Homo sapiens: one gene and its partners. The protein of the gene in region 6 purifies or fractionates together with the protein of the main gene of each other region. This does not show direct contact. Each region holds a gene or a part of one and is shown on either strand. Other genes may lie near its edges.

Region 1 (4,507 bases), on a different chromosome or scaffold from region 6:
TTTTACAGATGAGAAAACCGAGGCCTACAAGTTAGGTCCCTTGTTCAAGAACACATTAAGAAGTATCAGAATCAGGATTCAAAACTGTCTCTGATTCCAGTTCCAGAGGTTTTAGCCACTACTCAAAGCAGTCTCCCTGAACAACATGGGGGCTCAATAATTCAACCCATTCATTCAACAAATAATCTTTCTGCTGAACACAGACTACCTATCTGTTGAATCTGTTCTCTCTTTCCTTCACTTTCCTAAATCTGTCTAGAGGCTACACTCTCTGTTACTCCTCCACCTTCTAGTCTCAGGTCAGATTTAGATTCATCTCTAACTCCTCCCTTCTTCAACAACCCTCATCTCGTCAGCCAACAATTTCTCCCTATTTTAGGGATTTTACATTATATTAACTCCTTGCCAAATCCACTTCCACTGTCCCAACTCAGACCCTAAGTTTCTTTTTACTTGGCCATTGTGATACCCTCCTAATTAGTCTTGCTGCTCTTGATCTCCGGATCCTTGCAATCAGTGTTACACCAATGCCACCTGTTACCCGTACAAAACAGACCTACTCATGTTACGCTCCTGCTTAAAAGCTCTGATGGTTCTCTACTGTCTACAGAACAAAGTCCAAACTAGTTCTGTTGGCATTCCTACAACATGCTGGTCCCAACCTATCTCCACAGCATCATCTGCTATTACATCCCACACCAAAAATAATAATAATTTATAAGAGCTTAAGTGTTTACACAGTACATTTTCACATACATTAATCCTAACAATACTATGAGTGAATCTTGTCATTCCAATTTTATGAGGAAGAAACTGAGACTTGCAAAGGTAAGGTAATTTGTCCAAGATCTCAAATCATAAAGGCAGCATGGGCCAAGTCTCAAACCACACAGCTGATCCCCTTTCCCAGTACTTCACACAGCCGTAGCACCCCCATTCCCATCATAACAGACTTACTCAGCTTTTTTTGTTTTGCATAATATTTCCCTATCTCCAAGTCTCAGCTCAAGCTATTTTTCCTTTAGCCTCAAATACCATTCTCATTTCTTGAGGTTTCCAAAGAACTGTGTTAGGCAGTTTACTTACCGTGCTTTGTGTATGTTATTTACATTTGCACATAAATCTGTCTCTGCACTGAATTATAAGCCCTCTGAGGACAGCACCATACATTATTTACTCAATTTTAAAAGTCTGCTTATTGAATTGAAAAAATACATGGGCAAAACAAGCCATATAAAATGGGAAGCATCAAGGCCAGGTCTGAAACGAGAGCTCAGCAACAGGGATCAAACCATCTGAGAACACTGGCAGTGACTTCAATTTTAACATCTATCTTCTGAACAAGGTCAATGCTCCTGTGCCAACTATTCTCACTGACAATGGCCTTGATCACATATTATAGTTTACTGAAAGCATAATTCAAAACAGAATGTGGTGGGCCAGGTGCAGTGGCTCAAGCCAATAATCCCAGCACTTTGGGAGGCCGAGGCAGGCAGATCACTTGAGGTCAGGAGTTCAAGACCAGCCTGGCCAACATTGTGAAACCCCATCTGTACTAAAAATACAAAAATTAGCCAGTTGTGATGGTGCACGCCTTGTAGTCCCAGCTACTCAGGAGGCTGAGACAGGAGAATCACTTGAACCTGGGAGGCAGAGGTTGCAATGAGCCAAGATTGTGCCTCTGTACTCCAGCCTGAGTGACAGAGTGAGACTCTAGTTTCAAAAAAAAAAAAAACCCAGAATGCAGTGAAAGTAAAAAAATCAGAATGGAAATTAATAAAAAATAGAAATATCCGTGGTCATTTTTCCATCTTAACTTTCCTATTTGGTTAAGTAACTAAAATTTAAATGATACAGGCTTGCCTTGGCCTTTCTACAAAGATCAGCTTGGAAGCCTGTATTCTGGTCATTTAAGCAATTAGCTCTTAGGGGCTATTTCAGTATGGTCACAGAATCATGTTCAACACACAGCTTCCCAAATCTCATCCTCTAAAAGAGCTACCAGGATTCCCAGCACTAGCAGAGGCTCTCTCAGAAGACACCTGACATGCTGATTATCTGGCCAACTTTTGCAACTGAAGTTTCCCATGGCTATGTCAAATGGTCAAATTGAATAGTGCATCCTTCAAGATTATAGGCTGTTGCTCCTTCATGAGTTGCCTTTATCCCAACGAAGATCAGATTCTAAGGATGCCTTATAATTATAAAGCCCAGAATACGAAACCACTAAACAGCTGACCAGGTGAAAAGTCTCAAATGCTTCCTTCCCTGTTGGAAATCTCTCAACCCACTCCTGAAATATTAACTATAATGTCAACTTTTCCATAAAGTGGCAGAAGATAGTATTAGCAGAAAAACTAGCCACATGTCTTGCATTGAATTTCATTTCATTTGCAATAGTTATAATCACTCTAAGCATAAGGAAAGAAAGCTACAGGCTCTGACCTAAACTAATTTACAAACTAGATTTCAGAACTGCCTTTAACAGTCAAAACTAATGGTTTTCTTTTTTGGCAACATACCCAAAAATCTACTATGTTCTGTTCAGTAACATCAGAATTTTTTTTTTTTTTTTTTTTTTTTGAGATGGAGTTTCACTCTAGTTGCCCAGGCTGGAGGGCAATGATGCAATCTCAGCTCACCACAACCTCCGCCTCCCGGGTTCAAGTGGGAGTCTCACTCTGTCACCCAGGCTGGAGTGCAGTGGCACAATCTTGGCTCACTGCAATCTCTGCCTCCCAGGTTCAAGTGATTCTCCTGCCTCAGCCTCCTGAGTAGCTGGAACTACAGGCGTGTGCCACCACAACCAGCTAATTTTTGTATTTTCAGTAGAGACAGGGTTTCACAATGTTGGCCAGGCTAGTCTTGAACTCCTGACCTCAAACCTCAGGAACTCTAAACCTCAGCTTCCCAAGTAGCTGGGATTACAGGCATGCGCCACCAGGTCTGCCTAATTTTGTATTTTTAGTAGAGATGGGGTTTCTCCATGTTGGTCAGGCTGGTCTCGAACTCCCAACGTCAGGTGATCCACCTGCCTCAGCCTCCCAAAGTGCTGGGATTACAGGCGTGAGCCACCGCGCCTGGTCCTTTTTTCTTTTTTTTCTTTTTTTTGAGATGGAGTCTAGCTCTGTCACCCAGGCTAGAGTGCAGTGGTGCGTTCTCAGCTCACTGCATCCTCCAGTTCCCAGGTTCAAGCAATTCTCCTGCCTCAGCCTCCCAAGAAGCTGGGACTACAGGTGCACGTCCCAACACCCGGCTAATTTTTTTGTATTTTTAGTAGAGACGGGGGTTTCATCATGTTGGCCAGGCTGGTCTTGAACTCCTGCTCTCAACTTATCCCCCAGCCTCGGCCTCCCAGAGTGCTGGGATTACAGGTGTGAGGCACCGCTCCAGCCCTGATTGCCACATCTTATACACTACAGAAGGTTCTTTCTGGATACTGCGCCTGGCCCCGATTGCCACATTTTATACACTACAGAAGGTTCTCTCTGGATACTAGTTAGACACACACACACACACAAAAAGCCATTTTGATCTTGTTATGAACTATATATTCTCCCATGCAGGACAGGAATAACACAGTAGTAGTAGGGCAGAATTAATACAAATTTTGCAATCAGAGAATCTAAGTTCAAGTCCTAACTGTCTAATGAGGGTAGCTCTACCCCTGAGACAGTACCAGTACCAAACTCACAGGGTTGTTCTGAGGATTCAATTAGTTGATACATGCAAAACAATTAGAACACACGGTAAACACACAATAAATAAACAGCTTTACTATTCTTCTATTATAATCACTGACTCAAACATGAGGTTTGTGAAAGGATAACAAATGCTAACAATAACAAGTCTCACCCCAAAATTAACCTGCCTATTTTTGGCAACTTTTTTTTTTTTTTTTTTGAAACAAGGTCTCGCTTTGTCACCCAGGCTAGAGTGCAGTGGTGTGATCTCAGCTCACTGCAGTCTTGACTTCCTGGGTGCAAGCCATCCTCCCCACTCAGCCTCCCAAGTAGCTGGGACTACAGGCGCATGCCAACACACCCAGCTAATTTTTATATTTTTTGTAGTAACAGGGTTTCACCATGTTGCCCAGGCTGGTCTCGAACTCCTGGACTCAAGTGATCTGACCACCTCGACCTCCCAAAGCGCTGGGATTACAAACTTGAGTCACCGCACCCAGCCTTCTGGCAACTTCATGCTCAATGGTATTACTCAAAAAAAATAAATAGGCCGGACACAGTGGCTCACGCCTGTAATCCCAGCACTTTGGGAGGCAGAGGTGGGTGGATCACGAGGTCAGGAGTTCGAGACCAGCCTGGCCAACATGGTGAAACCCCGTCTCTACTAAAAATACAAAAATAAGTCAGGCGCAGTGTCGCACACCTGTAATCCCAGCTACTCAGGAGGCTGAGGCAGGAGAATCGCTTGAACCCAGAAGGCAGAGGTTGCAGTGATCTGAGATTGCACCACGGCACTCCAGCCTGGACAACAGTGCGAGACTCCA
Region 2 (4,142 bases), on a different chromosome or scaffold from region 6:
ATTTAACTCAACCAGCTTTCACTCTGAGCTGGTGTTGGAAGGACAATGAAATGATCTTTTGTTCTTCCTTCATCCTGGATTTTCATTTGAATGCTGGGTGCCCCAGCCCTTAAAAATATGTTGCTATTTCTTTTTCAAGTACATGGAGAGTATAAAGATCAATGCAAGTGATGTGATAATTACATCAAAATCCCAACATAATACAAATGGGGAACTAAAAATAAAGAGTATCATGATTAAGAATAACTGAGTTAAATTCCCTTTCATAACCTTTTAACAATTTGGTGAGAATTATTTCTCCAGGCAGATCATCTACTCAAAAAGTTCAGAAGGATTAAAATGTGTGTCTTTCTGTTTTGTTTTGTTATACAGATAGGGCCTCACTCTCTCCCAGGCTGGAGTACAATGGCATCATCTTAGCTCACTGCAGCCTCGAACTCCTGGGCTCAAGGGATCCTCTTGCCTCAGCCTCCTGAGTAACTGGGACTACAGGCTCACGCCACCACACCTGGATAATTTTTTCATCTCTGTAGAGAGGAGGTCTCGCTGCGTTGCCCAGGCTGGTCTCGAACTCCCCGACTCATGAGATCCTCCTGCTTCAGCCTCTCAAAGTGCCGGGATTACAGGTGTGAGCCACTGCCCGTGGCCTAAAATGTTTTGAGTGGTTGAAATAATTCTCAAATATTCAGAAAACGTGTCATAAATGTATTATTGGAGGTTTTTTGTCTGTTTTGTTTTTTGAGATGGAGTTTAGCTCTTGTTGCCCAGGCTAGAGCGCAATGGTGCGGTCTCGGCTCACTGCAACCTCTGCCTCCCAGGTTCAAGCGATTCTCCTGCCTCAGCCTCCCGAGTAGCTGGGATTACAGGCAAGTGCCACCATGCTCAGCTAATTTTGTATTTTTAGTAGAGATGGGGTTTCTCTATGTTGGTCACGCTGATCTCCAACTCCCGGCCTCAGGTGATCTGCCCGCCTTGGCCTCCCAAAGTGCTGGAATTATAGGCGTGAGCCACTGCGCCCGTTCTGGAGTTTTATATACTGGTACCCCTGAAAACGAGAGACTGTCCAAATAACCCCAACACGACAGAGGGCTGGAAATTTTATACCTAATGGAAAGGGACAGAAGTGCCCTTCTGAAGCTTTTTATTTCAAGGTCTGCTGTAGAAGGTAACCTTGTACTTCTGGCTGGCCTGTTTGTTTTGATGCTGGTACTTAGGCCCACGGCACCTTCTTTTGTCCTACCATTGTGGGGTTTCCTATCTCCGAGGCAACCTGGCTGTGCCATTTTGACGAAATAAGTCTGTAAAAGGAGTGCTCTCAAGGGACACAGCATGTACCTCTGGCGCAGCCTGTGTAAAAAGGCAGGCTGTGGTTGCCCACGCTGTAGCGGGAGAACCCAGGCTTTGGACTTGCTCAAGTTTGGGTCTGAATGCCAGCTGTGGGACTTTGGGCAAGTTACTATACTTCTCTGAATCTCATTCTCCCTCTTTGAAAAATGAATACAAGTACCTGCCTTCTTAGCATGTGAAATGCTTAGAAGATAGGCCTTCCACCAACTCATGGGAGGTTTCATTAATTATTCTCCCTGATAATCCTACCTTGCCAGAAGTCTGTCTCTATTTTTTTTTTTTTTTTGAGATGGTGTCTCACTCTGTCCTCCAGGCTGGAGTGCTGTAGCGTAATCTCGGGCTCACCGCAACCTCTGCCTCCCGGGTTCAAGCAATTCTCCTGCCTCAGCCTCCTGAGTAGCTGGGATTACAGGCATGCACCACCACACCTGGCTAATTTTTTGCATTTTTAGTAGAGACAGGGTTTCACCATGTTGGCCACGCTGGTCTCGAACTCCTGACCTCAGGTGATCCACCCACCTCGGCCTCCCAAAGTGCTGGGATTACAGGCGTGAGCCACGGCACCCAGCCTGTTTCTCTCTTATCTTGACCAAGCATGTGACAGTCAAGGGGAGGTGTCTTTCCCACCTCAACATACCCCTAGACCACACAGTGCTTCACAAGGAACTTCTTTCTTCCCAACCAGAGTCTTTCTTACCCAGTCCAAAGCGGTAACCATCAGAAAAGCGAGTGCTGGCATTCCAGAACACACAGGCACTGTCTACGTGCTGCAGGAAGAACTCCGCTGTGTTTTCTGCAGGGTGAAGAAGGAGAAACCAAGTTAGGATGATACCCAGAGAACATCCCTGTTTCCAGCCATTGACTGGTGACAGATCAGGGCAGGGTCTGGGTCCCCACTGGGGCCTCTCCATGTGTTCTCACGTATTAAATACTCAGGCTTATGAAAAATCTCAACAGGAAGAAGACAAGTTAGCTTCATCAATCACGGTGTTGTGGAAAGACTGAGTTGGAATCCAGATCTCCCATGCAGGTGACCTGCCTAAACTTCCTACTTATGGGCTCCAGAGCCAGACTTCCTAGGCCTGAACTCCAGCTGTACACCTGCTAGCTTTGTGACCTTCTGCAGGTGTACAAAACTCTCTGTGTCTGGGTCAAAAGGGACTTACAACATGACCTAGCTGATAGGGTTGTAGAGAGGATGAAACACCTGGGGAGTACTCATGCTAGTGCCTAGCACACAGTGAGTGCTTGGTAAATGTTGGCTGTTAATACGGGTGGTACTGCTCTGGTGCCCTAATTAGCTGACTGTAAATTCCTCATTGGGGCCCTACTGGCATCCTCCACCATTGAGGCTCCAGTATCTGACACCCAGGAGTGTCCCTGCATACATATTTGTGGAATAAATGAATGAATGAATGAATGTGCAGAGTTGGTTCTGCCTTGGTTTCCTCAGCTGTAAAATGGGTTTATTTTAACTACCTTGTAAGATTTGCTGCACGCATTAAATGATAGTGCCTCTGACAGGGTTAGTCATCTTCGAAGCAGAGCTAATCATCCCTGCCCCTCCTCCTCCAGCTGTGACAATATAATAAAGTGATGTGAAAGCACTCATCAAAGTACCAAATGCAACCACTACTAAACATTACCATAAGCCTACTCAAATGATGTTTTTCTGCAGCCCAAGGGGGGCTAAGAGGAGCAGGATCAGAAAGCAGCAAAGGCAGACACTGTATGCGGGAAGCATCTGGACACTGACCGTCCTCTGTGACGATGACATCCGTGTGGGAGCTGCCATACTTGTGGATGTGGTCAATGGCATCCTGAACGTTGTCCACTACTTCAATGCATAATTCCAGGTCCCCATACTCAGTTCGGAGTGACTTCACTTCGGAGGGGCTGAAGGTCAGATAGGAGGCAAATTTGGGGCCTGCATGAATTTTTACCTGGAACAGAGGAAGTCCAGGGGCAACAACATAAAAACAACTGAAATAAGCAAGTTCTAGGATAGAACAGAAAGGTGAGCCTGTAAAACCACAGCCCAAAGTGGCTCCTGTAGCCTCAACAACTGAACTAGTCCTACTTTCCTCCCTCCAGCATGATCTGACTGGCCACTTGCCAGCAATGGGCCCTCAAGACAGTTGGAACAGGGATTGAAGCAGGAAGCCTTGAACGTTAAGGATGTGCAAGGTGGGCCGGGCATGGTGGCTCACGCCTGTAATCCCAGTACTTTGGGAGGCTGAGACGGGTGGATAACTTGAGGTCAGGAGTTCAAAAACCAACCTGGCCAACATGGTGAAACCCCGTCTTTACTAAAAAAATTAGCAGGGCATGGTGGCAGGTGCCTGTAATCTCAGCTACTTGGGAGGTTCAAGCAGGAGGAGAACTGCTTGAACCTGGAAGGCAGAGGTTGCAGTGAGCCAAGATTGTGCCACTGCACTCCAGCCTGGGGCACAGAGCAAGACTCCGTCTCAAAGAAAAAAAAAAGAATAAAAAAGAATGTGCAAGGCGTTTAGTGGGTTATCAACACAAGGGCTTGACTTCTGGCATTTTCCTAAAATGAATACTTGACAATAAAGATCCCAGTTCCTGCATATGGTACCTAGGCACTAGACTCGTGTGGAAAAAGGGAGGTGCCACATATACATTGCTACTCCCTGTACCCTAGCGAAGTCCCAGGTTTGCTTTAGAGGTAAGCAGTACTTGGTCAGGTGCTTTCAGCACCTGAAACTGTGGCTACTCATTTGATTTCCAACTGCGTCAGTCTGGCCCCACCTCTAGGTTCAGCTCAGCCCCAG
Region 3 (3,530 bases), on a different chromosome or scaffold from region 6:
GAATGTAATGTATGGCAGAAAAATAGGTTTGGTCTAAAGCTTTGCCAGCAGTGTTCGAAGAAAGTAGGTAATTTGTTCAAGGATAAGAGACTTGATTCTTTGAGGTACAGCCTGCCTTAAAAAACAGGTACATAAGTCGTAGAGTATAAAACAGTATGTGGTGTGGTGGCATAAAAAAAAACAGACAAGGTGTCAGGAGATTAGGATTACTGGTTTAGCTACAGCCTCTTCCTTAATCTATGGTATCTCAGTCTCAGTGTACTCACTTACATGTAATATCTAATGGTATTTGTACAGAACTAAAATACATAAATTCATAAAAGTTATTAATGTGTAAAGCACTGATAAAGTTTTTTTTTGTTGTTGTTGTTTTTTTTTTTGAGATGGAGTTCCACTCTTTTTGCCCAGGCTGGAATGGTGTGATCTCCCGTCACTACAACCTCCACCTCCCAGGTTCGAGCGATTCTCCAGCCTCAGCCTCCCGAGTAGCTGAGATTACAGGCGCCCGCCACTATGCCTGGCTAATTTTTGTATTTTTAGTAGAGATGGGGTTTCACCATGTTGGCCAGGCTGCTCTCAAACTCCAGACCTCAGGTGATCTGCCCGCCTCGGCCTCCCGAAGTGCTGGGATTACAGGCTTGAGCCACCACGCCTGGCCAAGATTTTTCAAATGCTTCTCACAAGCACTTTTTAATTTACAAAGCATTACTTTAGACTTTGTATACATTCATGTGAGTAAGGGGACAAGAATTTAAGGCCCAGTAGTATTGCTTGTTCAGAAAGGTACTGCTCAGTATTGGACCAGCTTGCTGTGTAGCTGGACACCTGAAAGACATTTTCTACTTCTACAGGCAGAGACTGAGCAGCATCTTGATGCTCCCTAGTGCATTAACATAAGCAGAATTTACACCCTTTTCAGCCTTGGCCGAGTGCCTCTGCTTAGCCAACATTCCTACTAAGCTCCTTTGTCTCGATTGTGTCTTGCTTTGGTTGCTAAAAAAAAAATCTTAACTAAAATAACAGATGTTTTGGGGTAAATATTTAAGTATAGCTTTTGGGGACAGATCTAATAATTTATGTTGCCAACTTGTGCTTGTATGTTGCTAACTTGTGCTTGGATGTTGATCTGTTGAAAGTCATGCTGTTTTTTTTGTATTTTGTTTTCTTTCCATAGTTGTGGTGACAGTACATGGAGAGGTATGTGCAGAAAATATTTGTGTGGTTTTTGCAGATTGCTGGGCTCTCTTTCAGCCAGTGTGGTGGATTCTGTGTTGAAAACTGTTCCAGTCAGTATTGCTTCATTGTTGGCCCTTGTATATGTGTGTGTGGTGAGCTGCCGCCATTCCAGGCCTCTCCTCTACCAAAGTGTTGTCTTTAATATGCTGTATGTGGACAGGTAGAAGGGCTATACAATGAAAAGGATGCTTGAAGTACATGGTGCTTCCATGCTGAGGTCAATGATTATCTCTGGGATGAAGGCAAATGTGCAAATGTGGGCACAGTCTCTGCACATTGTACTGCCTTTAATAATTTGCCAGCCGTTTAATATGGAGAGCCTATCACAGTAATATTCACCTTTGTTTATTCTTTAGATTGACCCTGCTACGGGAATGGTTATGAATCTGGCTGATCTCAAAAAATATATGGAGGTAATGGCATGTTGGGTGCTTATTATGTGCTATTCCCTAACTGTAATATTTGGTGGCCCCCTATCTACCTCCCCAACCAGTTATCTCCTAAGGTTCCATGACTTTGTGAATAGAACTGGATGTGGGTGTTGGGGAATAGTTGGAAGAACTGCTCGCATGGCCTCTAAAGGTGTTTTGGTGACTTAACGGAAATTAGTCACAGTTGTGTTACAGCGATGGGAGGAAATATAACATGCTCACCTTGTATTCCTTGTTGGAATATCCTGATTTCCTTCAGTTAACAAATTCTCCATTTCTTTTAAGACATAGCTTTCTCCTTGAGACTTACTGTCTTTCTTTTTTTTTTTTTTTTTAAATAGGCACAGAACCAATGCAAACTTTTCTTTTTGGTAGAGGTAGGGGTCTCACTATGTTGTTCAGGCTGGTCTCAGACACCTCCTGCCTTGACCTCCCAAAGTGCTGGAATTACAGGCATGAGCTACTGCTCCTGGCCTTCTCCTTGGAGCTTTCTCTTCCCTCTCTGAATATTCCTTGTACCTTTGATCATAGATTTAGACACCACACTGTGTTGTTCATTCTAGCTTTATTATAAACTCACCAGAGCAGTACCTCATAGAGATAACACACAAGGTGTTCAATGAAGAACTTAACTGATTGTGTCATTATAGAATTCTTGCACTGTAAGAGACTTTGGAGATTATTCAGACCAACTTCTTCAACCCATAGATTAAGATTGAGAGATGCTGAACAGTTAACTGACTTGCCCCAGGTCATATGGCTAGTCATTTGCAAAGCTGGGAGTAGATTTCTTTCCTTCCAGCTGTTTTATTATGCTGTCATTTCACTTGCAGCTTAGGTTTGTTCTGAGATTTGACATTTGCTTGATTAAAATGATGTTATTAGTAATGATTACTTCTTTCACATTACTTATTCATATATTCAACAAATTTCTCTACTTCGCATCAGTTTTTGAGCTAAGTGTACAAAGATGAATGAGATGTAGCCCACAGAGTGTATACATTACTTTTTCTAGGAGGTGAAGAATATTATTAAATAACTGTTGATTTAATAAATGAGTAGAAGAATGAGTGAATGAAGAAACAGCACTATGCTCAAAATACTTTAGGAAAGTTATACAGATAGGGCCAGCATGCATTTATGGGGCAGGGGTTGGGGGGCAGGCGGAGAGAGAGAGAGAGGGAGACAGAGACAGGAGAAGAGGAGGGGGAGGGGAGGACAGGGGAGGAGAGGGGAGGGGAAAGAAAGAAAAAGAAAAAGAGAAAAGAAAAGAAAAGAAAGAAAAGAGACAAGACAGCAACATAAAAGGCCTCAACATATGACTAAATACTGGAGGAGGGCTTCTCTATGCTGTTTTCTGCTTTTGTATGCCTGAAGGACACCACACACTTTCATCAGTAAAAGTGGCTTATCATGGCATGTAGAGTAAAGTTAGAGCTCTACCGTGGGGGGAGGATTGCTTGAGTCCAGGAGTTCAAGGCTGCAGTGAGCTATGATTATGCCACTTGCACTCCAGCCTGGATGACAGAGACCCTGTCTCTAAAAACAAAACAAAAGAAAACAAAAAGCCCTGCATAAGAGGCTTTAATGGAGAAATTGGGACTGGAACTGGGATTGAAGATGAAGCAAGGATGCCCGTTTTCTTGTTATTCATGTGGAACATCCCTTCATTGGATATATTTCAATAACTGTTTGATCTAGGACTTACTCTTTTTGTATGATTCTAGTTTTTCTCAAGAAATGATTGCTGTTACTGTTATTAATGTACCCTTCTTCAAACTACGTCCTATGGAAAATTACATTTTTTTTTCACAGATGCTTAGATTTTTTGCAATAGCTAAAAGCAAAAACCTAGAAAGAATG
Region 4 (4,507 bases), on a different chromosome or scaffold from region 6:
GGTACTTGCTTTCTGCCAGACATGACTCTAAATCCTCCATACCCCATCTCATTCTTCCTCATAGAAACCCTGTGAGGCAGCCATGACCATTATCATCACTTACAGATGCCCAGAGAGGAGCTAAGACGCACTTGGGCCACTCTAAATGAAATTCCAGAATAGACACCAGAACTGAGGGCTACTGACCACCAGCCCACACTCCTCCCATGTGGCATGACTAGGGCACAGGTGTGGGGTTCCCAGGAGCCTCTTGTGAGCAAAGGACGCTGGCCAAGCAGAGCCAGCTGCTTCTACCCACAACTGGAGCAGACAATAGTCTTAAGAATTGCAGTGAGCCAAGATCGCACCACTGCACTCCAGTATGGGCAACGGGGCAAGACTCTGTCTCAAAAAGAAAAAAAAAAAAGAAGAAAGCCACGGTGCCAAGGCTGAGGAATGGGGATCATGCCCATTCAGCCCTGGTCAGTCTGTGAAGGAGTGCTGTGCCACCCCCTCCTGTCCACCTGTGGTTGGTTAGAAGCAATCTTGAATGTCCTAATCACTGGGTCAGATCTAACCACTCCCCTCCCCAAGTCCAAGCAGACATGTGCCCAGCCTGTGAAAACTCCATTCTCGTTAGACTTGGTCCTTCCTCAGTCCTTTAGACCGCCATACCCTAGGCAGTGAACCTCTTTTTCTGCCCCGTAGCCCTCCCCAGTTCTTTGGAAAGAGATCCACATCCTTCCTTTAATGAACTTCCCCTCCGCTTCATCATGTAGTTCCCAATCATAAGATCTTGCTCTTCCTGGTTACACGGCTTGACCTGGGTCAATAAACAACTTCCACAGGATTTTAGATGATGATGGGACAAAGCAGCTCTTTCCTGTGGGGTCGCTGGGCTAGGATTTTGTGGCGGTGACTCCTCTCCCTTTCTGATATGTAAGGAAGTCTGTTGCTCTAGCAGTCAGTGAAGCAAAGAGGGCAGAATCCCTTCACAAATTCCACGTCTCAGAAGCAAGCAGGACTTACCCGGAATGCCAGCCTTGGCAATGGCAGCCGCCGCATGGTCCTGGGTGGAGAAGATGTTGCAGCTGGACCACTGCACCTAGAAGAGCCATCAAAACAAGGCTGTTGGTCACTGATGGCTCAAAAGCACCAGGGACGCTGGGCGAGGAAAAGGGAGAGCTTCGGGTAGTGGGGAGAGGCTTGGGATCTAGGCACAGCAAGCTCTAGGATCACAGGCTGGGGATGCTGGGTGGGCAGATGGGAGCCAGAGCAGGGGCGAGATCCAACTCAGGTTTTAAAACCTCACTCCAGTGCTGTGTGGAAGGGAAAGGGTGGAAGCAAGGGGACAACTGCAGAGACTGTTGGAGAAGACTCCAGACAAGAAATATGACAGTAGCAGTGGAGATGATGAGAAGTTGTCACATCCTGGGTCTACTCTGAAGGCTGCACTGACAGGATTTGCAGAGGGATGAGTTGTTGGAGTAAAGGGAGTTGGGAGTGGGGAGGAAAGGGAGGGGAGGAGATGACTCCCAGATTCGTGAATTGAGAGAACCCAGAAGGCTGGAACAGAGGTTCCATTTACTCAGGTGGGGAAGGCTTTGGGAAGAAGAGGGGGCAGAAAATCCTGAGTCTGTTTGAACGCGTTCTGCCTGAGATGAGTACTAGACCTCCAGGGAGCGTCAACGCCCCCGCTCCTGGATATGCCAGTCTTGAGTTCCAGGAGAAGTCCAGGCTAGTACAAAAATGTGACAGTCATCACCAGATAGTGTCTAAAGCTATAAAATCAGACCGCCAAGAGTGAATGCTGAAAAGAAAGAAGAGGTCCAAGGACTCAGCCCTGAGCCCCTCTGTGGATTTTGGCTCCATTGCCCTACCCTGCTTTGGGAAACCAGCTTGCTTCTTGACTCTCTGAGACCTTAGGAGAGCTGTTAATCATTGGCACACATGACCCAGGCTGAACCAATCAGAGCTGCCATCATCCAGCAGCCATGATGGGTCCAGGGTAGGCCTGTGACCCCCGAAGGGCCAAGGCAAGCTGGCCCTTAAGAGACTAAGTAGGACATGGGTGTTGAATTTTTCCTGCCAGAGCATCCATCAGGAGGATGCCTTGAGGGTAGCCAACAGTGACCTTCCCAGCCAGGGAGAAAATCTGCAGAACACTCACCACAAGGGGTGGCAGCACTGGGAAACGGAGGAAACCGAGTGAGAGGGAGGAACCCCTCCAGGCCCGCGGTCAGCTCCACACCTGGAAGGTCCCCACCCTGGCACAGTCGTCTTCTTCCCTGGCTGAACCCAGGGAGGGCAAGGACTCTGGGGTGATACAGCTGTGGGCCTCACCTCAGCACCCAGGGTGACGAGGGTCTCAATGAGGACGGCCGTCTCCACGGTCATGTGCAGGCAGCCAGCGATGCGGGCGCCCTTCAGTGGCTTGGAGGCCGAGTACCGCTCCCGCATACGCATCAGGCCCGGCATCTCGTTCTCAGCAATGTCCAGGGCCTTGCGTCCCCAGGCAGCCAGGCCGATGTCGGCTACGGGAGGAAACAGGTGGGAGTTCCGTGAGTCCCCTCATCCCACCAACCAAGAGGGGCGGTCACTGCATGGACCCCGATCCACGTGTGGACTCAACACACTAGGGCTTAGCACTCTGTCACCGCATTCTCTCACTCATGCAACAAGTATTTATGAAGCCAGAGTACTCAAGAAAGACACGGTCCCTGCCTACCTGCACCTTTCTGACTTGTGGGAGAACACATTTAATCACACAGGGACACAAAAATTACAACATAAAGAAGCGTCCCTTTGAAAAATAGCTCACATGATACTTCCCACTACCCTGCCTTTCTGCTGACACCTACCAACCTCCAGGCCACTCCTCACTCCCTAAAGACTCCCTAAAGATGTTAGCTGCTGGTTCTCCATCTTCCTCTCTCAGTCATCACTCTCGGTGATTCAACACTTATAAATACTATCTAACATTTTGGATTTGACAGTTCCTTGATCTCCTTTTAGATGTAAAAATGCTTCCCCACTCCTGATGTTTCTTTCCACCTGGAGGAACTCATCCGTATAACGAATGCTCTTGGCCTCTCTGCCCCAGGGGAGGTGGGGTGAGCTTGTCTGACCAGTAAAACTGAGAGGAAAAAATGGTGTGCTCAGCTTAGCTCTCCCTTCTTTTTGCAAGCAAGCACTCACCTGCCCACTTGCAGGAAGCTGGTGTTCTCTGCTTTTCCAGAGACCAACCTACCCTGGCCCACCTTGCCTGCAACTGATTGGGTAACTGCTGAATCTGGGGGTTCAATAAGCAGGATCATTTGGATTTCATATTAATCTATATCCTCTGGCTTTGAGGTTATTAGTAATAAAAGGTAATATTTCAGGTGTTGCCACCTAAAATACTAATCTACATCCTCTGGCTTCATGGTTACTAGTAACAAAAAGTATTTCAGGTGCTATCTGCCACCTAAAATGTCTCGAATTTGTTCAAATTCTCAGGCAGGAAAGAAGGATATTATTATGAGCTAACTCACTATCTCAATACTCTCCCCTACCACACTGGTCCACTTCCAAGGTCATACCCTAGGTCAGTCCCTAGGTCAAAGTTTGCAGACTTCCCCGGTAAGGGATGTTCCTCTGGCATGCTTGTAAATCTCCCCTGGAAAATATGATTCAGCAGGTCTAAGACTCCTGGTGATTTTTATCTTTAGGGAAGCTGAGATCCTGCCAAACACCCAAAGAGGTAGGCGGTGGGAGGCAAAGGACTCTGTAGAGAATTTAATAATCTAAGAATTTAATAATCAATAAAATTGTCTGTCAGTCAGCTTCCTACAGTGCATTTTAACAATTTCAGAGATGAAACACGCCTCCCGCATGAGAGACCACTCCGGCTGTGCCTCAACTCAAGCCACCCACCCCAGCCCTCCTACCCTAGTAGGCCATCACCAGTGATAGCTCTCCTTGGAAATCTGGACTTCAAGCACCCAACTCTAGCCACGCCTCATCTTTCTGGTTTTCTCCTTCCAGAGGCCAAGCTCCAACAAGGCTGTGGCCTGTCAGGTGAGAACCTCTATTCAATTCATCCTACCAATTTCTAGTGTCCCTTCTACCCCCTTTCCCTTTGAGAACTCACTTGGCAAAACTCTCAGCCCAATTAAACCCGACCCTCCACTGCACCGGACCCACTGAACCCAGCAGGAGGACAATCACAACCCCACCAAGACATCATATTTAATTAATTAATTAATTAATTATTTTAGAGACATAGTCTGGCTCTGTAGACCAGGCTGGGGTGCAGTGGCGCGATCTCGGCCCACTGCAACCTCCACCTCTCAGGTCCCGGTTCAAGCAATTCTCCTGCCTCAGCCTCCCCAATAGCTGGGATTACAGGAACTCGCCACCATGCCCAGCTAATTTTTGTATTTTTAGAGGAGACGGGGTTTCACCATGTTGGCCAGGCTGATCTTGAACTCCTGGCCTCGTGATCCACCTGCTTCAGCCTCCCAAAGTGCTGGGATTACAGGTGTGA
Region 5 (4,507 bases), on a different chromosome or scaffold from region 6:
GCCACACAGAAGCAGGGGACCCACATTCTCACCCTCCTACCTCCAGAAAGGTCCTTCTGAACAGAGTGCGGCTGAGGGCAGGGCGGACAGAGACACCCTCAGAAGCCCCCAGCGCCCCCGGGACAGTCCACACCCTGCACGGCCGGAGCCTGCCTGCTGGACCCCGCCGTCCCTTCCATCTGGACCCCGACATCCCCTCCATCTGGACCCCGCCGTCCCCTCCATCTGGAGCCCCGACGTCCCCTCCATCTGGACCCCGCCGTCCCCTCCATCTGGACCACGCCGTCCCCTCCATCTGGACTCCCGCCGTCCCCTCCATCTGGACCCCGCCGTCCCCTCCATCTGGACCCCGCCGTCCCCTCCATCTGGACCCCGCCGTCCCCTCCATCTGGACCCCGCCGTCCCCTCCATCTGGACCCCGCCGTCCCCTCCATCTGGACCCCCGCCGTCCCCTCCATCTGGAGCCCCGACGTCCCCTCCATCTGGACCCCGCCGTCCCCTCCATCTGGACCACGCCGTCCCCTCCATCTGGACTCCCGCCGTCCCCTCCATCTGGAGCCCCGACGTCCCCTCCATCTGGACCCCGCCGTCCCCTCCATCTGGACCCCGCCGTCCCCTCCATCTGGACCCCGCCGTCCCCTCCATCTGGACTCCCGCCGTCCCCTCCATCTGGAGCCCCGACGTCCCCTCCATCTGGACCCCGCCGTCCCCTCCATCTGGACCCCGCCGTCCCCTCCATCTGGACCCCGCCATCCCCTCCATCTGGACCCCGCCGTCCCCTCCATCTGGACCCCGCCGTCCCCTCCATCTGGACCCCGCCATCCCCTCCATCTGGACTCCCGCCGTCCCCTCCATCTGGACCCCCGCCGTCCCCTCCATCTGGACCCCCGCCGTCCCCTCTGGATCCTCATGGTGGACTTGGGTGCCCAGGAGGCTTTGGTCCTGCCACCCCCACTCCCAGGCCCCACAACACATGGGAGGAGCAGGAGTCACCACTCACCTCAAAGCCGGGGTCGCCCCGGAGCCCCGGAGGTCCTCTTGCAGGCTGCAAGGCAGAGGGGACGGTCAGCCAGGACCCCAGACTCAGGTTCCCAGGGTGCAGGGCGCGGGGTCAGGGGTCGGGGGGCACACTCACCTGGCATTCGAAGGAGCAGCACTGTGGGGGGAAAGCATGGAGACGAGTCAGTGGGAAAGCCACGGACATACGGCTGGGACACAGGGTGACATGCGACCCAGGCACATGGGCAGACGGACACACGGATGGACGCACAGGCGGACACATGTCCCAGGCACATGGGCAGACACACAGGTGGACACGCAGGGGGACACACATCCCGGGCACACGGGCAGACACGCAGGGGACATGTGTCCCGGGCACATGGGCGGATATGCATAGGGACATGCGTCCTGAACACACAGGTGGACGTGTGGGTGGACGTGTGCAGACTCACGGCTGGGGGTGGTGGGGAGGGCTCTTACCACTTGCTCCACGTTATTTTTCTGGAAAGAGAAATGGAAACGCAGAATTACTTTCCACCTGCGGCCGCCGCGGGCCTCCCCGTCTCCTGGGCAGGGGCCTCACGATCATGTCCACGATGGTGTCGATGGTCTGGCTGATGGCCTCCTCTGCGTCGCGGCTCTGGCCCCAGTCAGCCGCCGTGAAGTTGCGCCGGTACGTGTGGTCCGTGGCGATGATGCTCAGACGCGGCTCCTGGGGGCAGTGTTCAGGGTGGGCTGAGCAGGGCTGGGACCCCTGACGGCCGGGGCCGCTTCCCACAGGGCCAGAGGGGAGGCTGGGCTGGGGCGCTCCAGGCTCCTCAGCAGGAGGGGCTGGCCTCTCAGGGGCAAGGGTGGCCGGCTGGAGAACCCACACCCTCCCGAGGACCAAAAGACGGTCCCAGCTGCCGGGGGCCTTGCAGCCGCCACTCCCTGTGGTTGGGGGCATCTGCCGGGGGGGGCCGGTGCCTACCAGGTGGTCGGGTGTGATGGCCACCGAGAAGACTTTGACGCCCAGGTGCTTGGCCTCGTTCACAGCATCCTCCAGCCCCCCACAGGGTTCCTTGTAGCCCTCCAGGGGGTGCCCGTCGGTCACCACAATCAGGTACTTATTCTCCTTCAGGTGGGAGCCCCTGGACAGGAGAGGGCAGCGTGAGACCTCGAGACTAGGTGGGGGAACTGGAGGGAGACCCAAGCCTGTCCGGGAGGTGCTGGTCCCTGTCTCACCGGGAGGAGCCGCCTCTCTTTGCTGATCCTGGCTATACGGTGGGGGTTACTGAAAAGAACCTCACCATGGGAAATAACGCCTGTGGGTCTCATTTCTCTAAACTGCTTTGGAAAATCCACGCCCTCCCAGGAGAGGCACCCATGACCCCAAAGGAGGCTCGGTTCCTGGGGTGCCCTGGGGCGCAAAGCCCCTGACCAGTGAGTGGAGGCTGAGGGTGGCAGGGAGCGTGCCCCTCCGAGATGCCCGCCGCGTCTACCCACAAGCTGCCTCAACTCAAGGCTGCTCGGTCACCGTGGCTCTTGCAGGAAATGGGTGTGATGAGCAAACAACAGGGCGATCCCTGAATGCCCCAAATCCAACCCCCCGAAAGGGAAAGTGGGAGCAGCAGGAAGGAGGGCAGTATCGCAGGGCAGTCGGGCAGCCTGCTGGGGACGCTGAGCATCTCGGCCAGAAGGGCGAGCTCATTTAGGGGAGTCGTGTCTGTCTGTGGCTTCCACAGGGGGCCGCACTCTGACGTGTGTGGCCACATCCCCCATGCACCCCCTGCAGACAGCGGACGACTTCCTGAGACTCCAAGTCCCCCAGGTCCCAGCTTGGCACCAACTCTGGAGGGAAGTGGGCACAACCATTGGAAAGGGAATGTCCGGCCCACACCGGCCATGTGGCCCTCTGAGACCGACCTCGGGGAGAGGCTCTCCCCAAACCCCCCGCACCGCCTGGCTGGACAGGGCAGCCTCGGGTACCCCCACTGGGATCCTGAGGCCTCGTGAAGGGCTGGGTGTGGGGAGGCCACGTTCCCCTCTGGACACTCCGGGGCTTGCGGCCCCTGCGTCCCCACAGCTGGACACTGGGATGAGAGGAAACCCCTCAGTCCAGAAAAACCCCGAGAAAGCGCATGCTTCGGGTCTGATGAGTCTGTTTCAGTGATCCTAGCCCTGCTTGGTGTTGATGCTGTGGGGAAAACCACCCCGTCTCTCTCAGTCTCTCAGTCTCTCTGCCTCTGTTTCCGGTCTCTCTGTCTCTGTCTGTCCCTGTCTCTCTGTCTGTCTCTGTCTGTGCTTCTCTCTCTGTCTCTCTGCCTCTGTCTTTGTCTCTCTCTCTCTGCTTCTATCTCTCTGTCTCCCTCTCTGTCTCTATCTCTCTGTCTCTGTCCCTCTGTCTCTATCTCTCTATTTCTGTCTCTGTCTCTGTCCCTGTCTCTGCTTCTCTCTGTCTCTCTGCCTCTGTCTGTCTCTGCTTCTCTCTGTCTCTCTGTCTCTGTATGTTTCTGTCTCTGTTTCGCTGTCTCTGTCTCTGTCTCTCTGTCTGCCTGTCTCTGCCCCTCTGTCTCTGTCTCTCTGTCTCTGTTTCTGTCTCTGTCTCTGTCTGTCTCTGACTGTCTTTGTTTCTCTGTCTCTGCTTCTCTCTGCCTCTGTCTTTTTCTATCTGTCTCTGTCTCTCTCTGTTTCCCTCTGTCTCTCTCTCTTTCTGTCTCTGTCCCTGTTTCTGTCTCTCTGTCTCTGTTTGTCTGTCTCTGTCTCTGTCTCTCTGTCTCTCTCTGCCTGTCTCTGTCCCTCTGTCTCTGTTTCTGTCTCTGTCTCTCTCTGTCTCTGTCTGCCTGTCTCTGTTCCCGTCTCTGTCTCTCTGTGTCTCTCTCTGTGTCTCTGTCTCTGTCTCTGTTTGTCTCTGTCTGCCTGTCTTGGTCCCTCTGTCACTCTTTGTCTCTGTCTCTCTCTGTCTCTGTCTCTATCTCTCTCTGTCTCTGTCTCTCTCTGTGTCTGTTTCTCCCTGTTTCTGTTTCTCTCTGTCTCTGTCTGTCTCCGTCTCTTTCCTGCCCACAAAGTGGGTCAGGGAGGCCGTGCAGCCTCCAAGAGAACAGGGAGGCTGCAGCTGAAGCCGCACAGGGACCCCAGGCCAACCCCAGCCCAGGCTGGGTACCACGCGTGAGAACTGGCGTGGGCAGGAGGCTGGGGGCCACTCACCCCACGAGGAGCTGCTCCAGCCCCTTCTTGATAGCGCAGTCGGTGTAGGTGCCCTTCCCAAAGTACTTGACCGCGTCCACGCTGCTTTTGAGTGCGTCGCGGCCGCCAGGCATGCGCGTGAGGCCTTGGATGATCTCCACCTCGTCACTGTAGTGCAGCGCGCCTGCGTTCCACACCAGGTTTCGGTCACAGCGGTAGTACCTGCCAGGAACAGGCACGGCGGGCGTGAGGCGGGCGGCCCCTGGCGCCATCGCTACCCGTCCCAGGGCGCGACGTCACCCAGATGGACAGGCTGCCCCACCCTGGCCGTGGCTGACACACA
Region 6 (4,403 bases):
TCATGTTGCAAAAAAAATCTATTTTAAGTTCATTGATATCTCTTGAGTATCACACATGTAGGCATGTGAATGATGTGTTCATGGGCATGAGGTGTATACAGACTATTAAGCTGATCATTCAAAGTGTGTTGGGGCAGTTTAGCATCAGAAAGAAAGACTCTTTGCAGTGGATTTAGACATGTAACTTTTAGAAATTATGAGTTCAAAATGACGCAAAAATCCCTTATTGGTCATCATTGCTGGTTGGTAGGGCACCTGCTTGTGACTGTGAAAATTTATGTATTTATATAGAAAAGACATGTGTATGAACTATCTTCCAGGTTTCCAAATAGTTACAGAAAGTTCTTCTTTGTAAAAGTTATTCTTTGTAGAAAGTTCTTATATTGGTTAAATAATATGGTGTCTGGGATATACTCTAAAATACTCCAGGAAAATAAAGTGGCAGAGGATATCAAAATAAGACTTGGCAAAATGTTTTCATTACTAAAGCTTGAAATAGGAAATTCACTGTATTATTCCCTCTGCTTTTATATAGGTTTGCCATAATTTTTTAAAGAAGTATTTTATGAACAGTGGGATTATTTTTTAGAGAGACCAGAACCCACTTCCCACTAAGGAAATTCCTCAAGGTGCAGTTCTAGGCTAAGATGTAAGGTACATGTTTTTGTGCCACAGTCTCAGCACTAAATTTGCCCTAGACCTTCCAGTTACTACAGCGCTACTGTGGACATTGATTTGGAACTTGTTAATTAAGATTTTGTAGCAATTCAGAGGGAGTTTATGTTTTAGTTTATAATATTGTTAGTAGTATAATGATCATCGGTCATATGTGTATATATCAAATGGTATAGATTTACAGTGTTGTACTATACGTGAGTCACATATATAATTTTAAATTCTCTAGAAGCCATATTAAAAAGGAAAAAAGGAACAGTGAGATTAATTTTAATAATAGATATTATTGAACCCAATATCCAAAATATTTCTACATGTAAACAACGTTAAAAATGATTAATGAGCTATTTTACATTCTTTTTTTTTAAATACAAAGTCTTCACAATTCAGAAGACAGCAAATCTCAATTAGGACTAGCTACGTTGCAAGTACTCTGGAGCCACACACATGGCTGGTGGCTACCGTTTTGGACTGCACAGGTATAGAAAGAGCTGATGATCGTAAAATCTTGTATCCTATGCATCCTTACCCCTATTCCATCCTTCAGAGGCAACCTTTGTTTTAACTGTTAATTTTTAGTTACTCTATTGTTGCCTCCACTTTTAAAAGTTACATTATTATGACTATGTAAATATTGTTCAGGCAAATATTGTACTAAGCAAACTTGTGTGCTAGAATTACACTTCCTTCTCTATATGGGTCTAATGTCATGACTCTTACTTAGGCCACCAGTTAGTGCTCCAAACATCAGGCTCAAATAAATCTTCCTTACTCTGTTATTCTTAAAATCACGTGAAGTGTTATTCCAATTGTTACTAAGACTCTTTCTTGTTAATTTTTCTGGAGTTTTTAATTGCCACCTTTTTTTTTCTTTCCCTATGTATCTTAATCACATCTTCTTCCTCCTGTACCAGTGACTAGTAACTGTGCAGGCCTCCTGTAAATCTGCCATCCTGGGTCTTCCTTAGTTACTCTCTTGGATTATATCCATTATTTATTGGATTCCATGTCTTTCTCTCTCTTATAAATTCCTTAGAAAAAATGTGTAGAAAGATAACTTGGAGCCCTTCTATGTCCGAAAAATGTCTTCATTTTGCGTTCACGTTTGATTGAGGTTTTCTGGAGATAACAGGATAGAAACAAGGCTAGAATATACTAGAGGTGAAGGGATTGGGAAATAGTCTAGAAATAATAGGAGACAGTCTGCCTGATTTAGCCCCAGAAACACTTTGGATTCAGAGTCAGTTAGAACAAAAGAGTGAGAAGTCCAGCAACTCTCCCTGTTTGGGAGTCCTGTCTCCCAAACAGGGAGAGTGGCAAATAAAAAGGACGGAACAGAATGGAAAAGGAAAGGAAGCCACAGCCTAGAATGTACCAGATTTTCAACCCAAACTTTGAAAGCTTTGTTTCCTTGTCAACAGGCATGAAAAGATGCCACTACAAAGTTAGATAACAATGGAAATGAATTAAATGTTGGTATATTGGCTTTTGGTAGTTGCTGGCACACTAGGACCTAATGCTGGCCTCTGGGAACTAAAAGGCTGATAACTGGCTCTGCACCTGCACATTTATCTATTTTGATTTTAATTCAACAATTTTTACTTTATTTATTTTGTAGAGATGGGGTCTTGCTGTGTTGACCAGGCTGGTCTCAAGCTCCTGGGCTTAAGCTACTCTCCTGCCGCGGCCTCCCAAAGTACTGAGATTACAGGCCTGAGTCACCATGCTCGGCCCAACATCCACATGTTTAAAGCAAAACCTGTGGACCCATGACGTTGATTTGCCCTATCCCAGTTATAGTTACCATCAAGTCCCACTCGGAGAAGAGACTTGTTGGTAAAACAGTTCTATTTTTATAATAGTAGAAGAAATTCCAGCTAGCAATGTAATCCTCTTTCTTAAATGTAATTGTACAACTAACAGTCATCACACATATGAGGGTAGCCAGCAACGTGAGAGACAAAATTCAAGATTAAGTTCCAAAATCAACATGGAGGACAATTTAGTAAAGAGACTAGACCTCTTTTATAAAATTATAATTACTATGTAGCAGAAAGGAGCCAGGACAAGAATGAATAAACAGATTACAAATATTGTTGCTGAAATAAAAATGTTCAATAGGAGGATTAAAGTCCAAAAAGAAAACTTCCCCAATACAAAAAGAGATAGAAGACATAGAGAACCAATTCAGACTATTAGGAATCTAGAAAGAAGAAAATGGAGAAGGAAATGCTATCATGTGGAAGAGGATTTCCTAGGGATGAATAAAATTCATTGAATGCCCAGCAACAGTGACTGACAAAATACTCACTAAGATACTTCATAGTAATACTGTATCATATCAAGGAGAGGGAGAAAGAGTGTCAGTGATTTTAGAGAAGCCAAAGAACCATATTTTCAGTGCAGCCTTTAGTACATGGGGAGACACACACACAAAGCTATCATTTGTTTAGCTTTGTGATGGCGGTATTAGAAGTTTAGGTGGAAAATTTGGTGTATTCTGGACTGCGACTTTCTCCTCTTTGCATCCTGATTATATTCATGAAATTTGTTAAAATCACTATGAGGGATTTTCTCATCCTCAGTCTTTTCCTATTCTCTATAAATCTTTAATAAATCTCACACTCTCAAGAGGTCAGAGCATTTGAAATAAAAATCTTAACAGTATTGAATATTGGTATATTTCATCCATACAATCAGGAACAAATTTAATAGTAGGAAAGGAAATAGGTACATTATATGTGTTTCTGTATATTTATGTTTATGTTTTTATTTACATATGTATACTGAATATATATTTGTTACTGCTTATAGATCACATACTATGTTTCATCAACTTTAAGATTTCATTAACTATAAAAATGTCATTTTATGAAACATTAAAGAAAAATATTGCAAATTAACTCATGACCTTATAAAGTACATCTGGATTTCAGAGATGTTAAGTGTGAAAAAATATCTTAGAATTCATTAGATATGCTTAGCAATATATGATACTATGCAGTAGATTCCATTGTTTTCTTGAATAGAGGCTTCAGTTTTCTAAATAATTTTCCACTTATAAAGATTAAAAATTAGTTCTGTTAAAAATATGTATCATCTTCTATTTGGAGATAGTTCAGGGAACTATTAGAAAATATTTACATATACCTGAATTTTTAAAATCTGTAGCTATATATGTCAAGGTGCTCACTGTGTTCATCTCTACATGAATGAGATTATGAATATTAAATGTTTTATTTTGCTTGTCTTTGTTACTTTTCTGTAATAAGCATTATAATTCCTGTTCTTAAAATAATAAGTTCATTTAAGGAAAAGGGGGTGAAAGGAAAAATCTGCAGAATTTAGGTCTGAGATAATACCATTTCAAAGCACTGTGATACAAATTACTTATATATGTTATATACTGTGTGTGTGTTAACTACTTTTATTTGGGGGCTTGTTTTGCATACATGTGAAGGAAATGATTATATATAAGGATTTAATTAAATCTGTTTATACCAAGAATTATATTTAAAAGAATATGGTTTCATTGGATATTTAAGCATTCAGGTGTGATGAGGGAATTCAGGGAAAGGAAACCTTTGGTACATAAAACTTTTTTTTCTTTCCCCTTTGACCAGGATTATAACCAAAACAGATGTATGAGAGGTGACAGAGAGAAGAGGCCATTGGTCTCAGTAAGAATGCCCTGCTTTCTGCATCTCTGTTTCAGAAGACCAAGAGGG
Region 7 (5,065 bases), on a different chromosome or scaffold from region 6:
CTCTGTGGGTGGCTCACCCCCACTGGCCATAGCCAGCCAGGTGAGCAGGGGAGGGCAGGGGTGGGGCCCAGGCCAGCAGGAGTCGAGACCGGGAGAGGAAGCCTACTTGAGGTCATGGTGCACCCGGGTACCTGAGTGGGACTCGAGCCCAGGCCTCCAGCCTCCAGGGTGGGAACCGTAGTTCCCTCATTTGTAAAATGGTCCCTCTGTATGTGTGTGGAAAGCACCAAGAGTCAGGACAGACTCGCTGTATCAGAGTCACCCTATGGCCTTGGACAAGTCATGTTCTCCTCTCCTAAGCCTCAGTTTCCCTACTTGCAAAATAAGGATGGGCCGGTAGAATGAGCCCAGGGCTCCCTTGCAGCTCGGCCTCTGCCCTGGGCCTCATGTGAATGGGGCCCGACCTGGCTCCCAGCCTGTGCTCCCCGTCACTACACAGCACCACTAAGCACCCCACGGCCAGCCCCTCCTCTGAAAAGCGAGGACAACCTCTGCTTGCATTCTCCATCAGCTGCTGGAAATGAGAAATGTGGTGTGAGAGGGAGCCCGCACCAGGATGCTGCTAAGGGCTCTCCCAGCACAAGCCCATTCCTGGGAGCTGTGGCACAACACCATGGGGTTCCTGGGACTGTGCGCTTTCATCCCCAAATTTTGACTCCAGCAGACTCAAGGTCATCCACAGAAGGGTGAGGGGAGGGGTCTCTGCTCCCTCCTCAGACCTCCCAGACAGAGCACAATGACAAGAGCAGGAGCCAAGGAAGTTTATTTACTCTACTGGGTGACAGGAGGGCAGAGTGCTCCAGAGGAGACCCAGATACATCAACCAAGGACTTCCCTGAGATTTGGCTTTGCTCTTCCAGGCCTGCACATGCTGCGTGATGAAATGAGGCCTGCCTAGACATCTGTGAGGGCCTCGAGGGCTGCTGCCTCGACTTTCTCCCTAGCTAAGTCCACCCGTCCAGGGACACAGCCAGGGCACTGCTCTGTGCTGACTTCCACTGCAGCCAAGGGTCAAAATGAAGCATCTGCGGAGGCCAGGACTCCTTGGCATCGGACACAGTCAGGGGAAAAGCCACCCTGACTCTGCAGGACAGAGGGTCTAGGGTCATTTGGCAGGAGAACACTGGTGTGCCAAGGGAAGCGAGCATGATTTCTGGAGTGGACTACATGCATGGTCTGGAGTTCAGTAAACTGGAAAGTTTCACCCCCAAGTCTTAATTTAATCAAAATTGCTGAACTCTGTTCAATCTTCATTGTTAAAAGCAGCTTTAAAGCTGGGTGATTTCTTAGTCAAATGTATAACGAAGCTTTTACTTATCAATTTCTTTTTGGGAGGGGGCATGGGCTGAAATACATCTTGTGCTCAATAAACCTCCCCACATCAATATTTCAAAGCACTTTCTAGGTTACAATAATGACATTTCAATTCCATATACGCATACATAGAATATATATTTTTAAACAGAGTGGGTCTTAAGAGTATACTTGGAACCCTCGGAGTCCTCCATGGACAAGAACAGGGTGGCCCATGGACTTCCAGCCAAAGGCTCCACTGTGGGGCTGCTTTGGGGAGAGACTCACAGCTGGACTTCTCTATCCGACCATGCAATGTTAGCCAGCACCAATTACCCACAATGCTTTGCCCATAAGAGATAGAAATAATGGAACTCACAGGAAGAAACAGTATTGATAACATACACAGGCTTACAGAGGCCAGGCCCAGTAATTACCATGAGACAGAAGCCTACAGGTGGCGGTGCTTTGACTGGGCTGGGATTATTGATACATTACTGATACATCACTTCTTTTATAAGCATATGTAAAACGAGTGCTACTGAAAGTCGAAGGACAGCTTCCGGGGAGTCATGAACTCTTTCACTATCTCATCCGTGACCTCCTTGCGCCGGGCCTGGTGCTCTGCGATCAAGGGCTGCAGAACCTCTATGAGTGCCTTCTTGAGCTCACCGGTGAGCATGGCTCCGCTGGTGTAATCCTGCCCGGAGGGAGACAGCCACGTGAGAGATGGCTCCACATGTCCTGAGTGGCTCCTTCCTGCCTCGGGCACCAGCTCAGCCCACACCACCCATGCAGAGCCTGGCACGTGGGTGGCACTCAGAAGTGAGATCTGTTGTTACCACAACAATAACCTATACCTTCAGCTACACTTTTCCTAAAACGGCTAGAAACCTGGCTCTGACGATAGCCATGACTTGGCCTCTCACAGTGAAAGGGCCAATGGGGAGGGCAGTCCCCACCCCTACCGATGCTAGGGGCCATTCCCCCAGGCACTAAACAACAACAATTCCTGGCAGCCTTATGGCTTCTGTAAAATCTTGCTAATTTTTTTTTTTTTGAGATGGAGTCTCACTCTGTTGCCAGGTTGGAGTGCAGTGGCATGATCTCAGCTCACTGCAACCTCCGCCTCCCAGGTTCAAGTGATTCTCCTGCCTCAGCCTCCTGAGTAGCTGGGATTACAGGTGCCTGCCACCACGCCTGGCTAATTTTTGTATTTTTAGTAGAGATGGGATTTCACCATATTGGCCAGGCTGGTCTCGATCTCCTGACCTCGTGATCCACTCCCCCCACCTGCCTCGGCCTCCCAAAGTGCTAGGATTACAGGCGTGAGCCACTGCGCCCAGCCAAATCTTGCTAATTTTTTCTTTTTCTGATTGTACTGCATGCTCATTAAGCAAATTTAATAAAGTACCCAAACCACAAAGCAGCAGCAAAGTAAAGAAAAATCACCTACAAATTGCCCACCTGAAAAATGCCCAGAGGTGGGTCTCCCGCTAACATTTGGTAGATTTTCTTCACATTTCTTTCCCTGTGCATTTCATTTAAACATAGTTAACTCCTCCCTGAGTTTTCATTTGGTATCCTTTTTTCACTATCATAGGCATATTTTCCTGTGTCACTAAAACTTTTTTTTTTTTAAAAGAAATGAGGGTCTTGGCTGGACGCGGTGGTCACAGCTGTAATCCAAGCACTTTGGGAGGCCAAGGCGGGTGGATCACGAGGTCGGGAGGTCGAGACCATCTTGAATAAGACGGTAAAACCCTGTCTCTACTAAAAATACAAAAAAATTAGCCGGGCATGGTGGCGGGTGCCTGTAGTCCCAGCTACTCGGGAGGCTGAGGCAGGAGAATGGTGTGAACCCGGGAGGCAGAGCTTGCAGTGAGCCGAGATTGCGCCACTGCACTCCAGCCTGGGTGACAGAGCAGGACTCTGTCTCAAAAAAAAAAAAAAAAGAAAGAAATGAGGGTCTTGCTATGTCGCCCAGGCTGGATTTGAACTCCTGGGCTCAAGGGATCCTCCTGTCTCAGCTTCCCAAGTAGCAGGGGCTACAGATGTGTGCCACCATGCCCTGCATATGAACACTTAAAATAGTTCATGCCCGCATAATAATCCACCCTGTAACAATTCTAATTTAACGTTTCCTCTGTTGTACTGAGTCTGTGTTGAACTTTTTGCTATTATCATTTTTAACATCTTTGTGTGGAAAGCTTTCTCTTACTCAGGATTATTTCCTTGGAAAAAATCTAAGAATGAGAAAACCTGAGGAGAAGCTCTGAACATTTTTGGGCTCTTTGTACCCAGTACCAAACTGCTTCCTGAGGCTGTGCTGATAAACACTCTGCTCACTTGAGTGTGCCTTGAAGCATCTGCTTCATAATCACTGAAAATAGTCAATGGCAACACAAAAGCCCCTACTAATTCTATACTCAACTGTCTTAGCTTTGATCACGTTAACTTACATTTCTCTGATGACTAATAAAGCAAGACTGTTTTGGGTGGCTCCTAAATGAATAGTGATTTGTATCTGCTCTTTCGAGATTTGTTCATGAGGCTTCTGAGCCCAGGCCTAAAAACCATGAGGGCGAGTCTACTCAGTTTTCACCTTGTTTCAGTTGAGCACCTCCGACCAAGCCTTCATGCCTGGCTGTTGGAGCCTTCCAGGCCCCATGGGCAGGAGTGGGTGGCAGAAGGCGGCTGTGGGCCCTTGGGGTTCCCTGCTCACCTTCCTGATCTGCTCGAGCTTGTCGTCGTCCTCGAGGAAGAAGGTCAGGTACATGAAAGACACGTCCACATCACAGTTGCCCCCAAACTGCCTGTGCTCCTCGATGGTGTCTCTCCCTCCAGAAAACGCATGCTTATTGACCTGCACCAGAAGAGGACACAGACACGCTCCTCAGTCCTGCTCATCCTGTGCCTGGACACTGGCTAGAAGCCCAAGTGTGGAAGTCAGAGGTGTGAGTGCTGTCAGATTCTGGACCCGGGAAAGGCCAAGGCGCACAGCCGGTTGGGGGCGCACAGCCAGTGGGGGACCCACTGCTGTTCTTCCTGTGAGGCTTGGGTGTGAGCTACTGTGGGGCTCACTGCAGGAGAGGTGGGGGCAGATGAGCTTTGAACCCCCCATCCTCGGAGACACAGGAGAATAGAGTTGGGAAAGCCAAGGCACTGATTGAACTGAAACCTGGGACAGACAAGTTCCTCAGGTAACAAGCGTCAGAAAAAGGATGGGTAAGGCCAGACATGGTAGCTTGTGCCAGTAATCTCAGCATTTTGGGAGGCTGAGGGGGGAGGATCGATTGAGGCCAGGAGGTCAAGACCAGTCTGGGTAACTTAGTGAGCCCTCCTCTCTGCCAAAAAAAAAAAAAAAAAGGAATTAGCTGGTGTGGTGACGTGCGCCTGTAGTCCTAGCGACTCGGGAGGCTGAGGTGGAAGGATCGCTCAGACTCAGGAGTTTGAGGTTATAGTGGACTGTGATTGCATCACTGCACGCCAGCCTCGGCGACAGAGCAAGACCTTGTTTCTAAAATAATAAAAACTAAAAAAATAAATAAATAAAAGAAAAAGGATGAGTAAGTCATCCTCAGAGTAAGGGAGATGGCAGGAAGGGCAGCCTCTCTTAGGGATAGGTACTGCAGTGTTAATGGGGACAGGAAAGCAGTGGCCAGCCCCACACAGAAAGCATAACAAGAAGGCACAGGGTAAGGCAGTAAGGGAAGGCAAACCCACGAGAAGTGCTGTGCAGGGAGAGGGGCCTGCAGGCAGGTCTTCACTT

The links.
Region 1: the proteins of SMCHD1 (region 6) and ECPAS fractionate together in Homo sapiens (co-fractionation; one large-scale study listed by BioGRID). This does not show direct contact.
Region 2: the proteins of SMCHD1 (region 6) and ALDH18A1 purify together in Homo sapiens (affinity purification with mass spectrometry, with the first as the bait; one large-scale study listed by BioGRID). This does not show direct contact.
Region 3: the proteins of SMCHD1 (region 6) and PTS fractionate together in Homo sapiens (co-fractionation; one large-scale study listed by BioGRID). This does not show direct contact.
Region 4: the proteins of SMCHD1 (region 6) and AHCY purify together in Homo sapiens (affinity purification with mass spectrometry, with the first as the bait; one large-scale study listed by BioGRID). This does not show direct contact.
Region 5: the proteins of SMCHD1 (region 6) and COL6A1 fractionate together in Homo sapiens (co-fractionation; one large-scale study listed by BioGRID). This does not show direct contact.
Region 7: the proteins of SMCHD1 (region 6) and WARS1 fractionate together in Homo sapiens (co-fractionation; one large-scale study listed by BioGRID). This does not show direct contact.

What each region holds. Positions count from the first base shown.
Region 1 is NC_000009.12:111,474,016-111,478,522, forward strand, and holds part of ECPAS (proteasome adapter and scaffold protein ECM29), read right to left. Parts: intron 1-4,507. UniProt on the Homo sapiens protein: Adapter/scaffolding protein that binds to the 26S proteasome, motor proteins and other compartment specific proteins. May couple the proteasome to different compartments including endosome, endoplasmic reticulum and centrosome.
Region 2 is NC_000010.11:95,608,153-95,612,294, forward strand, and holds part of ALDH18A1 (delta-1-pyrroline-5-carboxylate synthase), read right to left. Parts: intron 3,291-4,142; coding exon 3,104-3,290; intron 2,141-3,103; coding exon 2,045-2,140; intron 1-2,044. UniProt on the Homo sapiens protein: Bifunctional enzyme that converts glutamate to glutamate 5-semialdehyde, an intermediate in the biosynthesis of proline, ornithine and arginine.
Region 3 is NC_000011.10:112,229,034-112,232,563, forward strand, and holds part of PTS (6-pyruvoyl tetrahydrobiopterin synthase), read left to right. Parts: intron 1-1,174; coding exon 1,175-1,197; intron 1,198-1,592; coding exon 1,593-1,649; intron 1,650-3,530. UniProt on the Homo sapiens protein: Involved in the biosynthesis of tetrahydrobiopterin, an essential cofactor of aromatic amino acid hydroxylases. Catalyzes the transformation of 7,8-dihydroneopterin triphosphate into 6-pyruvoyl tetrahydropterin.
Region 4 is NC_000020.11:34,293,073-34,297,579, forward strand, and holds part of AHCY (adenosylhomocysteinase), read right to left. Parts: intron 2,514-4,507; coding exon 2,323-2,513; intron 1,085-2,322; coding exon 1,009-1,084; intron 1-1,008. UniProt on the Homo sapiens protein: Catalyzes the hydrolysis of S-adenosyl-L-homocysteine to form adenosine and homocysteine. Binds copper ions.
Region 5 is NC_000021.9:45,984,148-45,988,654, reverse strand, and holds part of COL6A1 (collagen alpha-1(VI) chain precursor), read right to left. Parts: intron 4,387-4,507; coding exon 4,186-4,386; intron 2,130-4,185; coding exon 1,970-2,129; intron 1,712-1,969; coding exon 1,583-1,711; intron 1,501-1,582; coding exon 1,480-1,500; intron 1,157-1,479; coding exon 1,136-1,156; intron 1,046-1,135; coding exon 1,001-1,045; intron 1-1,000. UniProt on the Homo sapiens protein: Collagen VI acts as a cell-binding protein.
Region 6 is NC_000018.10:2,798,230-2,802,632, forward strand, and holds part of SMCHD1 (structural maintenance of chromosomes flexible hinge domain-containing protein 1), read left to right. Parts: intron 1-1,051; coding exon of another isoform or gene 1,052-1,154; intron 1,155-2,293; exon of another isoform or gene 2,294-2,511; intron 2,512-4,298; coding exon 4,299-4,323; coding exon of another isoform or gene 4,324-4,403. UniProt on the Homo sapiens protein: Non-canonical member of the structural maintenance of chromosomes (SMC) protein family that plays a key role in epigenetic silencing by regulating chromatin architecture.
Region 7 is NC_000014.9:100,333,044-100,338,108, forward strand, and holds the end of WARS1 (tryptophan--tRNA ligase, cytoplasmic), read right to left. Parts: intron 4,160-5,065; coding exon 4,019-4,159; intron 1,994-4,018; coding exon 1,832-1,993; 3' UTR 747-1,831; downstream 1-746. UniProt on the Homo sapiens protein: Catalyzes the attachment of tryptophan to tRNA(Trp) in a two-step reaction: tryptophan is first activated by ATP to form Trp-AMP and then transferred to the acceptor end of the tRNA(Trp).